3 separate regions of the Homo sapiens genome follow, and regions 2 and 3 are each linked to region 1. Evidence: fine-mapped expression QTL. A gene starts in region 1. Each other region holds a variant in brackets. All regions are shown on one strand. Distances are from middle to middle.

Region 1 (4,238 bases):
GAAAGTGGGAGAGACAGAAAGGCAGAGACAAAACAAGGTGGGCTGGGAAAGGGATTCACTGGAGCAACGAGTTCAGTGTATGGAAGAATTGAAGGGTCAGATAGTTATTACCAGCCAGGTTCAGCAAAGCCTAGAAGGATCTGCTGGTCTCAGTGACCTGGGCAGGCAAACACCACCCAGCGGAGGCCAGGGGAAGACACCAGCAAGCAGGCCAGATCCTTTGAGCTTGGATCGTGGGGTAGATTCTATTTGCTTCTAATCCTTTAGTGCAGATGAGCTCCTGTGTGCAGAGGAGAGAGGTGGCTCCTAGAAGCGGGTAAATTCCAGAAACTACAAGGGGCCCAACAGTCAGTATCCAGAAGGATTCCAGATGGTTCCAACTCAACAATGCCAGAATACTCACAACATAGCAACTGTCCGTTTTCTGAACATTGGAGTCCAGTGGTGCCTGAGCCAGGAGGCTTGCCAATTCAGTAGACCAGACGTGGTATTTGCTCTACACAGCACAAATCAGAGGGCATATTTGATAGTGATAACATAGCAGTCATTTAGCTTGTGTAGAGGGTTACTCGGGATATTTCAGACCCCCAAAATTCTACTTGTGGCCTTAATTATTCACATTATTTGATCACATCAGTTAAAATACAGAGTACCTATCATTCTTTCCTTTGCACTATGGTAACGGAACATCTGTTGGGCTGAAATCAATTTTTTCTCCTTTTTGTGTGAATTCATTGATGCCTTCATCCACCCACTCACCCATCCCTCCATTTAACTAACACTCAAAGCAAACTTAACACATCTCAGATCCTCAGTGCTTCATGTGTCATTGTTTACGTCTCCTCTGATTACTTGTAGATGAGAAAAATAAAGAAGGTGGTGTGAGTTACTTGGGTGCAAAACGATATTCTAGTTTTGCACTAGAAGTGCTCAGCTAAAACTGTGCTAGATAAATAACTAAAAAAAAGGAGAGAGAAAAATGAAAAAAAAAAAAAGAGCGTCAGAGAGGAAACGGGAGGGTCTCAGTGGGGAATTCGGCTTCCTGTCGTCTGGGTTTTGATTTTGAGTTGTACTAGAGGAGTCTTTATGTCTGGAATGCTGAGAAAACCAGCCCAGGCCAGGCGGGCTGTGAGGGCAGGATTTAGAGGCGTTTAGTTTCTTAAACTCTATAGTCTGGATTCCGGTGTCAGGGGCCTGAGCCATTTTCCTCCTCCCCTACCCGTCAGCTCCCACTCCCTCCAAACTTCCTAAGAAAGTTCTGAGTCCTGCAGAAAGACAGGCTTCTCCATCTTCCACACCCGCGCAGATTTCTCTTTCCTCACACATGCACGCCCAGGCCCAGCGCCCCAGCCCCTCACCCCCAGGATAACTGTTAGAGTCTCTCACACGGGGCTGTCATCATTAACACCCCGAGATTCCCGAGGGCTAGGACACTGAGGCCGGTGTCCACATCTGCCAAATTCCTCCCATAGCTGCGTGCGAACTGAGTATGTTCCTAAGACGCCTAAGGAGTTCAGCACGGGGCTCGGGGTCCACTGCGACACTGCGCGGACAGCGGCCGCTCGGCTGGGCCTCAGGTGGGGAGGGCTCGCGGTCCTGCCCTGAGCCCGGGCTCCGCAGCTCGGCGCCTGCACCGCTCCCCTCGCCGAGCCCGCGGCGGAGTCTGCCGGCCGCACGCAGCAGGTCTGGGGCTCACCTTGAATCGGGACCTGCGGGGACCGCCGTGCGGCTTCCCGCTGGGTGAGCGCCGCAGCCCTGAGTGGCGGGGCAGTCATTCCCCTTTTCCAGATGGGAAAGCCAAATCTTGAGCCCAGCGCCAGCACCGTGTTCTCAGGTGCTGGGACTTCCAACCCGCGATCTCCTCACTGTAGTATTTCTGGGAACCTTCCCTGGGATTCCCCTCGGGGCGTAGAGGGAAGGAACGTCTGGGGACAAGCGTCCAGGAAGGGTCTGGATTCTTTGTCCTCCGCCGGGAGCAGGCCCCACCGCAGGCGCCAGTGTGTGGGGCGCCCCGGAGACGGTGGCGGGGACCGAGCCCCTGCCCCGCGGAGAAGCAGAGGGCGCGGGACGCCGTTCCCCAGCGCTGCCGCCGCCGCGCTCGCCAGGGCCTGGAGTGGCGCGGAGGGCGGCGGGCTCAGACCAAAGTCCACCAGGGGGCAAAGTCCGCGGGCCCCAAGCCCCCACCACGGGGTCGCGGGGGTTTGCTCCGCCTCGTGAGCTTGGGATTCTGGTTAAAAAGGCGGCTGGGCGGAGCTGCGGGCCTCCGACGGCGGGAGGACAGCGCTGCGAGGAGGCGCCCGGGACAGTCATGGAGCGCCGCCTGGGAGTGAGGGCCTGGGTGAAGGAGAACCGGGGCTCCTTCCAGCCCCCGGTCTGCAACAAGCTCATGTGAGTCCAGCACCCCCATGGCCGCCCCCTGCCCTCGCCTCCTCCCCCTCCTCCATCTGCGCCCTCACCTTCCAGCTCCGAGTTCCTGGACCCAGAAGCTTGCAGAAGGACCGCTTTAATCTCTTGGTTCTTGGGGGAAGATGGAGACAGGCTGTTCCGGTTCCACCACATCGGTCTGTTCCTCTTTCTTGTGACTGTGGCCTTGACTTCTGAAGAAGGCTGAGCTGGTTCTCAGGCTGTAGGAGATGACATGACAGGGTGCACCTCTCCTTCCAGGGCTGAGAAACAATTCTCCAACCCCAAGTGACACTGTGCATTTTGGGAAAACTCAAAAGTGTGGGGAGGGTGGTTTTCAAGGCAGAAATGCACTAGAATGTAGGCCTGGGGGCAGCCAAATCATACACCCCAACCCTGTCCCAGAAGCCACAGGCAAAGGGGGAGGCAGAGAATCCGCTCCTTTGGGAAGATCTTGATGTCTTGCTTTTTTCAGGGCCCCTCTATGCAGGTGTGCACGAACACACACACACACACACCACACCAGACCCTCCCTAGGCCACCTCTGCCAGTAGCCTCTGCCTGCAGCACCCAACAGGGTTGGCCATCCAGCTGCCATCTTTCTCAGGCAGACCTCTCAGGCCCTCCCCTGTGGTATGGTCACCTCCCTCATCCCCCCAGTTCCATGGCGGGGCCCCACATGCCAGCTAGATCAAGGTTTACATTCCCCATTTTTGCTGTGTCCACAGGACATGGTCAGTAGGGTGGCACCTCAAGGCAAACAGCAGGCCCAGGACTATGCCAAGTGTTTTTACATCATCTCATCTCATTCTCACAGTAGCACCGTGAGGGGGGATTTTCATAAGTAACTTTTCTAGTGTCACGGAGCGCCTGTGCGATAGGCTCCAGACTCAACCCACGGAGCAGTTCGACTCCAGAGTCCACGCACACTCTTGGTTACCATGCAATACCACATGGCCAACAGTCAATATCTCCCCAAAGATCTCTTCTATCACTGTTGTTGCCCACCCCCAATTAAAGATGTAGCATCATCTTTGCCTCCTTCCAACACTTCATCCCCATCTGCAGTCGCTCCTTCTCAGTCCTCCCTTCGCTCCCCCTGAGGTCTCGCGTCCATCTGCCCGGGCCTCTCCCTAGCATTTGGTGGTTTGCTGGCATCATTGGTATTCTTGCTTCTGCTGTACCACGCCCACCTCCACCTTCGTCTTCACAAGGCAGTCTCCTTGTGTGTGTGTCTGTGTCCAAATTTCCCTCTTTTAAAAGAACACCAGACATATTGGATCAGGGGCTCACCCTACTCCAGGATGACCTCATCCTAACCTAACTACATCTCAAGGACCCTATTCCAAATAAGGTCACATTCTGCAGTACTGGGCGTTAGGACTTCAACATATAAATTTTACAGGAGGGGTTACTATTCAGCAAGGTGAGAAGCTGCTGAAGCAAGCAAGGTGAGAAGCTGCTGAAGAGTTCTGGGCAGAGGAGGGGCAGGTCTGGTTTATGCATTCTGACTGATGGGTTGAAAGAATTCTTGAGTGGAGTTGTTTAAGAATTGTCTGTATGTACCTAAATTACATCTCAGTGAAGTTGATTTTAAAAAACAACTTTCAAGCCGGGCGCAGTGGCTCATGCCTGTAATCCCAGCACTTTGGGAGGCTGAGGTGGGTGGATCATTTGGGGTCAGGAGTTCAAGACCAGACTGGCCAACATGGTGAAACCCCGTCTCTGCTAAAAATACAAAAATTACCTGGGCGTGGTGGCACGCGCCTGTAGTCCCAGCTACTCAGGAGGCCGAGGCAGGAGAATTGCTTGAACCCGGGAGGTGGAGGCTGCAC
Region 2 (4,245 bases), 110 kb after region 1:
TGAGAACACATATGAGCTACAAAAATGGCTGGTGCTTCATTTCTGCTCTCCAAATCCTGCACTAGAATTTCTCATGGCCCACCCTAAAGGGCAACATACCGGGAAGGGAATTCTGGAAAATGTGGTTCAGTCTGGCTACACTGATATGTTATAAAGCTAACAAAGGTAGTTTCTTATAAAGTTAAACATATAGTTATCATGTAAGACCCAGCAACCCCACGGCTCATATTTCCCAAGAGAAACAAAAACTTAAGTTCACTAAAACTAGCATGCAAAATGTTTATAGCAACTTTATCCATAATCATCAAAAATCAGAAACAATTCAAATTCCCTTCAACAGGTGAATGAATAAACTGATTGTGGTACATTCACACAATGGAATAGTACTACTAGGCAGTGAAAATGAACGACTGATATATGCAGCAACACTGATGAATACCAGATGCATTATGTTAAGTAAAAGAAACCAAAATTAAAAAGTTACATACTACTAAACGATTCTACTTACACAGTGTTCAGAAAAAGGCAAAACTATAGGGATGGAGCATAAATCAGTGGTTGCCAGGATTAGGGCTAGGGTATTGTTGACTATAAAAGGGGAGACTTGACGGGAGAGGTGATGAAACTGTACTGTGTCTTGATTGTGGTGATGAGTTTTGTTTGTTTGTGGAGACAGAGTCTCATTCTAACACCTAGGCTAGAGTGCAGTGGCGCGATCTCAGCTCACTGCAACCTCTGCCTCCTGGGTTCAAGCAATTCTCATGCCTCAGCCTCCTGAGTAGCTGGTATTATAGGCATGTGCCACCAGGCCCAGCTAATTTTTGTATTTTTTTTTTTTTTGTAGAGATGGGGTTTCACCATATTGGCCAGCCTGGTCTCAAACTCCTGGCCTCAAGTGATCTGCCCATCTCAGCCTCCCTAAGTGCTTGGATTACAAGTGTGAGCCACAATGCCCAGCCCTTTTTTTTTGAGATGAAGTCTTGCTCCATCACCCAGGCTGGAGTGCAGTGGCGTGATCTCAGCTCACTGCAACCTTCACTTCCTGGGTTCCAGCGATTCTCCTGCCTCAGTCTATCGAGTAACTGGCATTACAGGCCTGCACTAGCATGCCCAGCTAATTGTTTTGTATTTTTAGTAGACACAGGGTTTCACCATGTTGGCCAGGCTGGTATCGAACTCATGACCTCAAGTGATCCGCCCGCCTCGGCCTCCCAAAGTGTTGGGATTACAGGCATGAGCCACCATGCCCAGACTGTTCTTTCTTTTTTTTTTTTAAGAGGCAGAGTCTACTATGTTGCCCAGGCTGGTCTTAAACTCCTGGGCTCAAGTGATCCTCCTGCCTCGGACTCCCAAAGTGCTGAGATTTCAGGTGTGACCCACCACACCCAGCCTGTGGTGATGATTATGGGAGTATGCATTTATAAAAACTCACAGAACTTTAACTGTAAAAAACTGTAAAGGAGTGAATTTTACTGTGTATAAATTTTGAAATAAGTTAAATTAAGCTTCGGAATAAAGCTATCGCTAACCACTAAATATAAAAATATCTATA[C/T]CCAAATATGTGCCTTCTACACAATTTGTTCTTAAATGTACAAACACACAATAATATATGCATTCACTTGGGAAAACTAAGACACTGGAAGCAGAAAATAATCAATGATCACTTTTGGGTAGTGGGATGAAACCACTTTAAAAAACTCACCATTATGACACAGTTGCTCAGTGCTCAGGTAAAGGTCTAGTATTTAAGCAGAGGAGGCCCAGGAGACTTTTTGTTGCATACACTACCTGACAGTTTCTAAAAGGACACTTCTTAAAACTTCATGTCATAAGAAATACATTGCCCCAACAACATCATGTACCTGTGATGGCATTATAGGAAATAACATTATTTGCATTTTATTTTCTACTAGGTTTATACATTACTTTTATAAGTATGGAGGGAAAGAGGGGATGATAATTTAAAAACAACAACTACCACAAAAAACACAAAACCCTTTGAGCAGTTAACACTCTGACATTCTATCCTGTTTATTTTAAGGGTTTGACACAAGTAGCCAATTCCAGTCTCCAAAATACAACAAATCTAATATGGACTGGCCCTTCAAGACTGGCCCTTCAACAACCATGACCTAAGGGGCAGTCTGCAGGGTTAAGATCCACATTTCCCAGACTCCCTTGCATCTAAGATTCTGGGTATAATTTAGGTTGCATCATAGATGCACTGGCAAGAGAGATGGATTTCGTACTAAAGGCACCCTGCCGGTGGGGTTCAAGGGAGAGACAGCACGTTGGAGCCACAGGTAGAGTGTTAGCTTCCTACTTCAGCAGTTAGGTTTCTAATCACAGCAGGGACGGCAGTATCCTTAGCTGGCCCATTCTGAAGTGTGACTTTCAAAGTCACAATCTTGGAGGCCCGATCTGATGTCTATTTCTTCATCTTCCCTAGTACTTAATGTTTCAATAAGCTCTCTATTGAAACAAGCTAGGGTAAAACAAAAGAAAAACTAATATATACCATGCTACAAATCTGTAATTTTGTTAGACCACAAAGACAACAAAAAAATCATCTAACAGTATTATTACTGTTATACTCATTTTCATAGTTAATTTTATCTGATACTGATGCCAGCCTCTATGTCCAAGTATATTGCACTAACCTACAGTTCACAGAGTTATCTTCTAGTCCTGTGTTAAGTGCCTAGGAGTGCTGTAAGTTTCACACCTCAGTGTTTACCTTGCTATCTGCTCTTTTCTCTCTTTACCTATTAGAGACCCAGCTAAAATGCCAGTTAACTCCATGAAGCCTCTTCCACTTTGGCACAAGGAATCCTTTTTAATATTCCTATACACTTGTTCATGTACTGACAGAAGTAATTAATTATATTTTACTTGGGTGTATATTTCAATCTCTTGATTTTAACTGTGAACTAATTCCTTGAAGTAAGGACCACATTCAATTTTTGTTGCATGCCTAGTGCCTTTTTGCAAGCCTGGCATGTTACAGGTACTCAGTAAATACCACCAGAGCACAGAATGAGGTATTACATTTGGTGCAGGGAAAAGTATTTTCACTTTAGTGTTTCTCAACTCCTACTCCTTTATCAGATCTGCAGGTTTTATTTATCTTTTTTGAATTTTCATTGAGCCTCACAGTGTAGATTTGATTTGTTAGGTTTCATTCTTTGCAATTTCTATGTAGCTGTAGCTCTATTATTTTAATAACTGTTATATTAATAACACTGCTCTATTGTTATTCTGACCATCTGAAGCTAAATACCAATGCACTTTAAATTTTCAGCTGCGCATCCTACAAATTTAAATCATGGCATGTAACAATTTAAGTATGAGTGAAGTTTTGCCAGAAGAACAAATTATCAGTGACACTAACAGTTTTAATTACTATGTCTGGGATTTAATTTATCAGCCCATATTGGTAAGTAATAACTTTGTGTCAAACAATTCAGTAAAGATGCAGCAACATAAAAGGCAGGCTATTGGCTCACATCAAATACGTAATGGTCTATAAAGATTCTATTTTCATAATTTAAAATAAAGGATGACTTCATAGAAAGCTATTTATGAAAATCTCAAATGGAAATTTCACCATTTCAAAGGAACTATAAGTTTAACTAAAGACAGTAAGTCCATAAACACAAAGACAAAACAAAGTACATACTATAGTTAGACAAGATGACCTGGTATTTACCCCACTGCATGGGGTAAGTAAGTGAGGTGATGAATGTGTTAATTGTGGTAATCATTTCACAATGTATATGTATATCAAATCATCATATTGTATACCTTGAAAATATGTATTTTCTACTTGTCAATTATACCTCAGTAAAGCTGAGGAAAAAAAAATTTTTAATAATAAAAAATATACATAGGATACTCAGGGGTCCCCAACCCCCAGGTCATGGACTGGTTAGGAACTGGGCTGCACAGCAGGTGTTGAATGGACAAGCGAGCGAAGCTTCATCTGTATTTACAGCCACTCCCCATTACTCCCACTGCCCCCTGAGGTCTGCCCCGTCAGATCAGCAGCGGCATTAGATTCTCACGGGAGCATGAACCCTATTGTGAACTGTGCATGCGAGGGATCTAGGTAGCGTACTTCTTATGAGAATCTAATGCCTAATGATCTATCACTATCTCCCATTACCCCCAGATGGGACTGTCTAGTTGCAGAAAAACAAGCTCAGAGGTCTCACTGATTCTCCATTATGGTGAGTCGTATAATTA
Region 3 (4,245 bases), 160 kb after region 1:
ATCTCAACTCTACTGAAAATTAAAAAAAATAAAATAAGCAGGGCATAGTCCCAGCTACTCGCGGTTGGGGGACTGCTTGAGCCCAGGAGGTCTAGGGTGCACTGAGCTGTATTTGCACCACTGAACTCCAGCCTGGGCAAAAGAGCAAGACCCTGTCTCAAAAAAAAAAAAGAAAAGGTAACAATTATCTGACATGTTCTCATAACGGACAGAATTGCAACTAGGGAAATTGCTCTGCTGCCGTTAGCACATCGACAGCTGCCACAGAATATCTATGACCTGTGAATATGTGCTCACACATGCAATATGCTTAATAAATGAGGTTTCTAAAAATAGTTTTCACTTACTTTTTCCCCTCATTAACAGCTGACAAAGCAATATTTCTAACATTTGATACTCAATCACCTAGAAAAAAAAATCCCCCTTTTTAAAAAAATAAGTTCTCTAAAGTCAGATTTGCTTGTTTTAATGGGGAGGAGTAAAACCTGCTAAATTTTATTTTAATAGGTACTTTTTTTTAAGGCTAGTCAACTGAAACAGTGATAGTGGAGAAGAAAAAAAGAAATCTGTAACTGGTTATAAACACTACTGCACTATGCCCAGCCAATACCACTGTCTTTAATAGTCCCTTGACTTTTAAGGGTTAACGGACACTGAAAATTCAAACAAACAATATAGCATACTTTAAAAGTCTCTTCCATATGGTCTGAAATAAAAGATTTTAAATTATAAAACCTTTATTTTCATAATTATATTAGGAAATAAGGAAACACAGGTTATAATGAAGTACAAATTGTTTTTGGAAATGCAGTTTTTATACAAAGATGAAAGGATAATAAGTGATCTAAGTTTTAAATTTTTCTTTAATATAGCTATATTGTACATCTCCCCAAATTAAAAATGAAAATCTAACATTTACAATTTTCATGTACATACATTAACAGCTAAGAGGTTGAGTCAGAATTATTTTATGAAGTAAATATGAATATGTAATTAACACATATATTACCATGCCAAGAGTTGTTGATAAAAGTGGTTTAAAAAGAGATTTAAAGCGTTAGTTTCCTTTATGCCAAACAAATCTTGGCTCATAGATAAAAACATGGTAAATTTTAAGCTAACCCCAACCTAAAGGAACTATTATCAAATTCCGTATACAGATACCATAGGCAATTTATACTGAGTCTCAAGCAATGAACCTAATCATGTGTCATGTACGATATTTTAATCCTTAAATAATAAAGATGCCCAAGCATGATATGAAGTGTATCAAAGACCACAACACAAAGATCACTCCAGGCCCATATAATCACTCGTACTACTTTTCTACACAGAACCACAAAGGAGTACAGAATTGCTATAAAGAAAACCTACTTTCCCACAGGTCACTGAAAAGGTTTTCAAAGTATAATCTGTTTCAGAGACTGCGCAGGGTGCTGGGACACAAAGACATGTGAATAAATAATTACGACAAAACAAAGTCACACGTTCAACAGCAGGCGCTGATCAGCCTGGAATCTGCTACTTGCTTAATGGTATGTCCCATATAATCCTACAGACTGAAAAACGTAAAAATGTGCATACAGGTTATATATTTCTTTTATCTAAAGCTAGTACATATTTGTATAAATGAAAGAGGAGGGCCAGGCGCAGTGGCTCATGCCTATGATCCCAGCACTTTGGGAGGCCGATGCGGGCGGGTCACGAGGTCAGGAGTTCGAGACCAGCCTGGCCAATACGGTGAAGCCCTGTCTCTACTAAAAACACAAAAATTAGCTGGGAGTGGTAGCACACGCCTGTAGTCCCAGCTACTCTGGAGGCTGAGGCAGGAGAATGGCTTGAACCTGGGAGCCGGAGGTTGCAGTGAGCCGAGATCGCACCACTGCACTCCAGCCTGGTGACAGGGCGAAACCCCGTCTCAAAAAAAAAAAAAAAAAAAGAAAGAAAGAGAAAGAAGTTTAAATTAGTGATCATTTACCCCCTGCCTGTAGACTTTCTTCTTTTGTTTTGTTTTGTTTTGTTTTGAGAAAGGGTCTAGCTCTGTCACCCAGGCTGGAGTGCAGCGGCATAATCACAGTTCACTGCAGCCTCAACCTCCTGGACTCAATCAATCCTCCCACCTCAGCCTCCCCAGTAGCTGGGACTACAGGTGTGTGCCACACGCAGAGCTAATTTTTTTTAAATTCTTTGTAGAGATAGAGTTTTGCTATGTTTCCCAGGCTGCTCTCAAACTCCCTGGCTCAAGCGATCCTCCCACCTTGGCCTCCCAAAGGCTGGGATTATAGACATGAGCCACCACACTTGGCCCAAACTTTCTTTTACCTTGATACAACTTGAAGCGGGGACTACCCACTTAGAAAAGTGCAGATATCTTAGTGCTGTACCAGACTTACTGAATTTCAATGTC[T/C]TGGGATGGGTCCAGGAATCTACATGATTAACAAACATCACCAAGTTTAGTGAACTTTTTTAAGTTCACTAAACTTAAAAAACCATTCCTGGCCCGGCGCCGTGGCTCACGCCTGTAATCCTAGCATTCTATAAGGCTGAGGCGGGCAGATTGCCTGAGCTCAGGTATAGTTCAAGACCAGCCTGGGCAACATGGTGAAACTCCATCTCTACTAAAATATAAAAAATTAGCTGGGTGTGGTGGTGCACGCCTGTAATCCCAGCTACTGCGGAGGCTGTGGCACAAGAACTGCTTGAACCTGGGAGAAGGAGGTGCAGTGAGCCAAGATCATGCCACTGCACTCGAGCCTGGGTGACAGAGTGAAATTCTGTCTTGGGAAAAAAAAACAGAAAAATTCCTATAGATGCAGAGTTTGACATTAAACTTGCCTTGTTCAACAAACAGTATTATTGCTTCATTAAAGAAAGACATTTTTTTATTGACTTTACAAGTCTTACATTTGCCACAAACTCTAGATTCTTTTTTTTTTGAGATAGAGTCTCGCTCTGTTGCCCAGGCTGGAGTGCAAGTGGTGTGATCTTATCCTTACTGCAGCCTCCATCTCCTGGGTTCAAGTGATTCTGCTGACTCAGCCTCTCAACTAGCTGGGATTACAGATGCCCACCATCACACCCAGCTCATTTTTGTATTTTTAGTAAAGACGGGGTTTCACCATGTTGGTCAGGCTGGTCTCGAACTCCTAATTTCAGGTGATCCACCCGCCTCGGCCTCCCAAAATGCTGGGATTACAGACATGAGCCACTTTGCCCGGCCCAAGTTACAGATTCTTAATATTTCTTTGTATAAAGAACAGTGTCAAAATATTAGGTTCTGGGATTGGTAAATCAGTGAGTAGACAGTTTTGACAGCATTTAACACAATGAACACAATGAACAATCAAATAAAAAAATAAAGATCAGAGATGCAAAATGCTTTCAGAAGACTAGATTTCTCAACAGCAACCGCATAAAACAGAATAGCACAGATTCAAAATTCTGAGAGAAGTGATTTCCAAACCAAAATTCTATGTCTAAACAAATCATTGGCCAAGTGTGAGAAATATTTTTAGATATATGAGAATAAAAACTTTTACATTTTTAGAAGACTTAATCAAAAGGCAAAGGTAAAACAATGATAAACTCCATGGAAAACAAAAGTTTATACAAGAAAGAATACATAATACTGACATGTTCATAAAACACAAAGACTGTTTACTAAGTTAAATAAAAGTTGTGATAATATTAGAAACAGATGGCAAAGGGAATAGGGAAGAGAGAAGTAAAGGTAAATTCCTAAAACTGAAAAATTAATAGTAGGAATATAAGAACAGTATAAATGCCAGAAGCCACCATCGAGAGGAGTTGAAAATGACTACAGAGTTGGAACCAAGCAAATGACTGCCTTGGATATTATTAGACAGCCATATCCATACACTTTTAAAAAAATAACAAAATTTAAATTTAAAATGAAAGGGGGTGATATGGTTTGGCTCTGTGTCCCCACCCAAATCTCATCTTGAATTGTGATCCCCATAATCCTCACGTGTCGAGGGAGGGACCTAGTGGGTGGTGATTGGATCACGGGGGCAGTTTCATGATAGTGAGTTCTCACATGATCTGACGGTTTTATACATGTTTGACAGTTCCTCCTTCTCCTTCTCTCGCCTGCTGCCAAGTAAGACATGCCTGCTTCCCCTTCCACCATGATTGTAAGTTGCCTGAGTCTTCCCCAGCCATGCAGAACTGTGAATCAATTAAAAGTCTTTTCCTTACAAATTACCCAGTCTCGGGTAGTTCTAT

The links. PIP is the estimated chance that this variant, and not a neighbour inherited with it, causes the effect.
Region 2: its variant is the best candidate, but not a certain one, in a credible set for the expression of HAAO in whole blood (TOPMed, PIP 0.71).
Region 3: its variant is the best candidate, but not a certain one, in a credible set for the expression of HAAO in whole blood (INTERVAL, PIP 0.53).

What each region holds. Positions count from the first base shown.
Region 1 is chr2:42,790,607-42,794,844 of GRCh38, reverse strand. It overlaps HAAO (3-hydroxyanthranilate 3,4-dioxygenase), which reads left to right and starts at 2,262. Exons shown (of 10, transcript NM_012205.3): 1 at 2,262-2,388. The coding sequence starts at 2,309. RefSeq lists silencers at 1,526-1,615, 1,696-1,795, 1,976-2,415.
Region 2 is chr2:42,683,551-42,687,795 of GRCh38, reverse strand. The region is part of intron 9 of MTA3 (metastasis associated 1 family member 3); the gene reads right to left. Among named protein-coding and RNA genes, the nearest start is that of OXER1, 78 kb to the left of the region's middle. The variant C/T (reference allele first, on the strand shown) is at 1,553.
Region 3 is chr2:42,634,321-42,638,565 of GRCh38, reverse strand. The region is part of intron 4 of MTA3 (metastasis associated 1 family member 3); the gene reads right to left. Among named protein-coding and RNA genes, the nearest start is that of MTA3, 68 kb to the right of the region's middle. The variant T/C (reference allele first, on the strand shown) is at 2,408.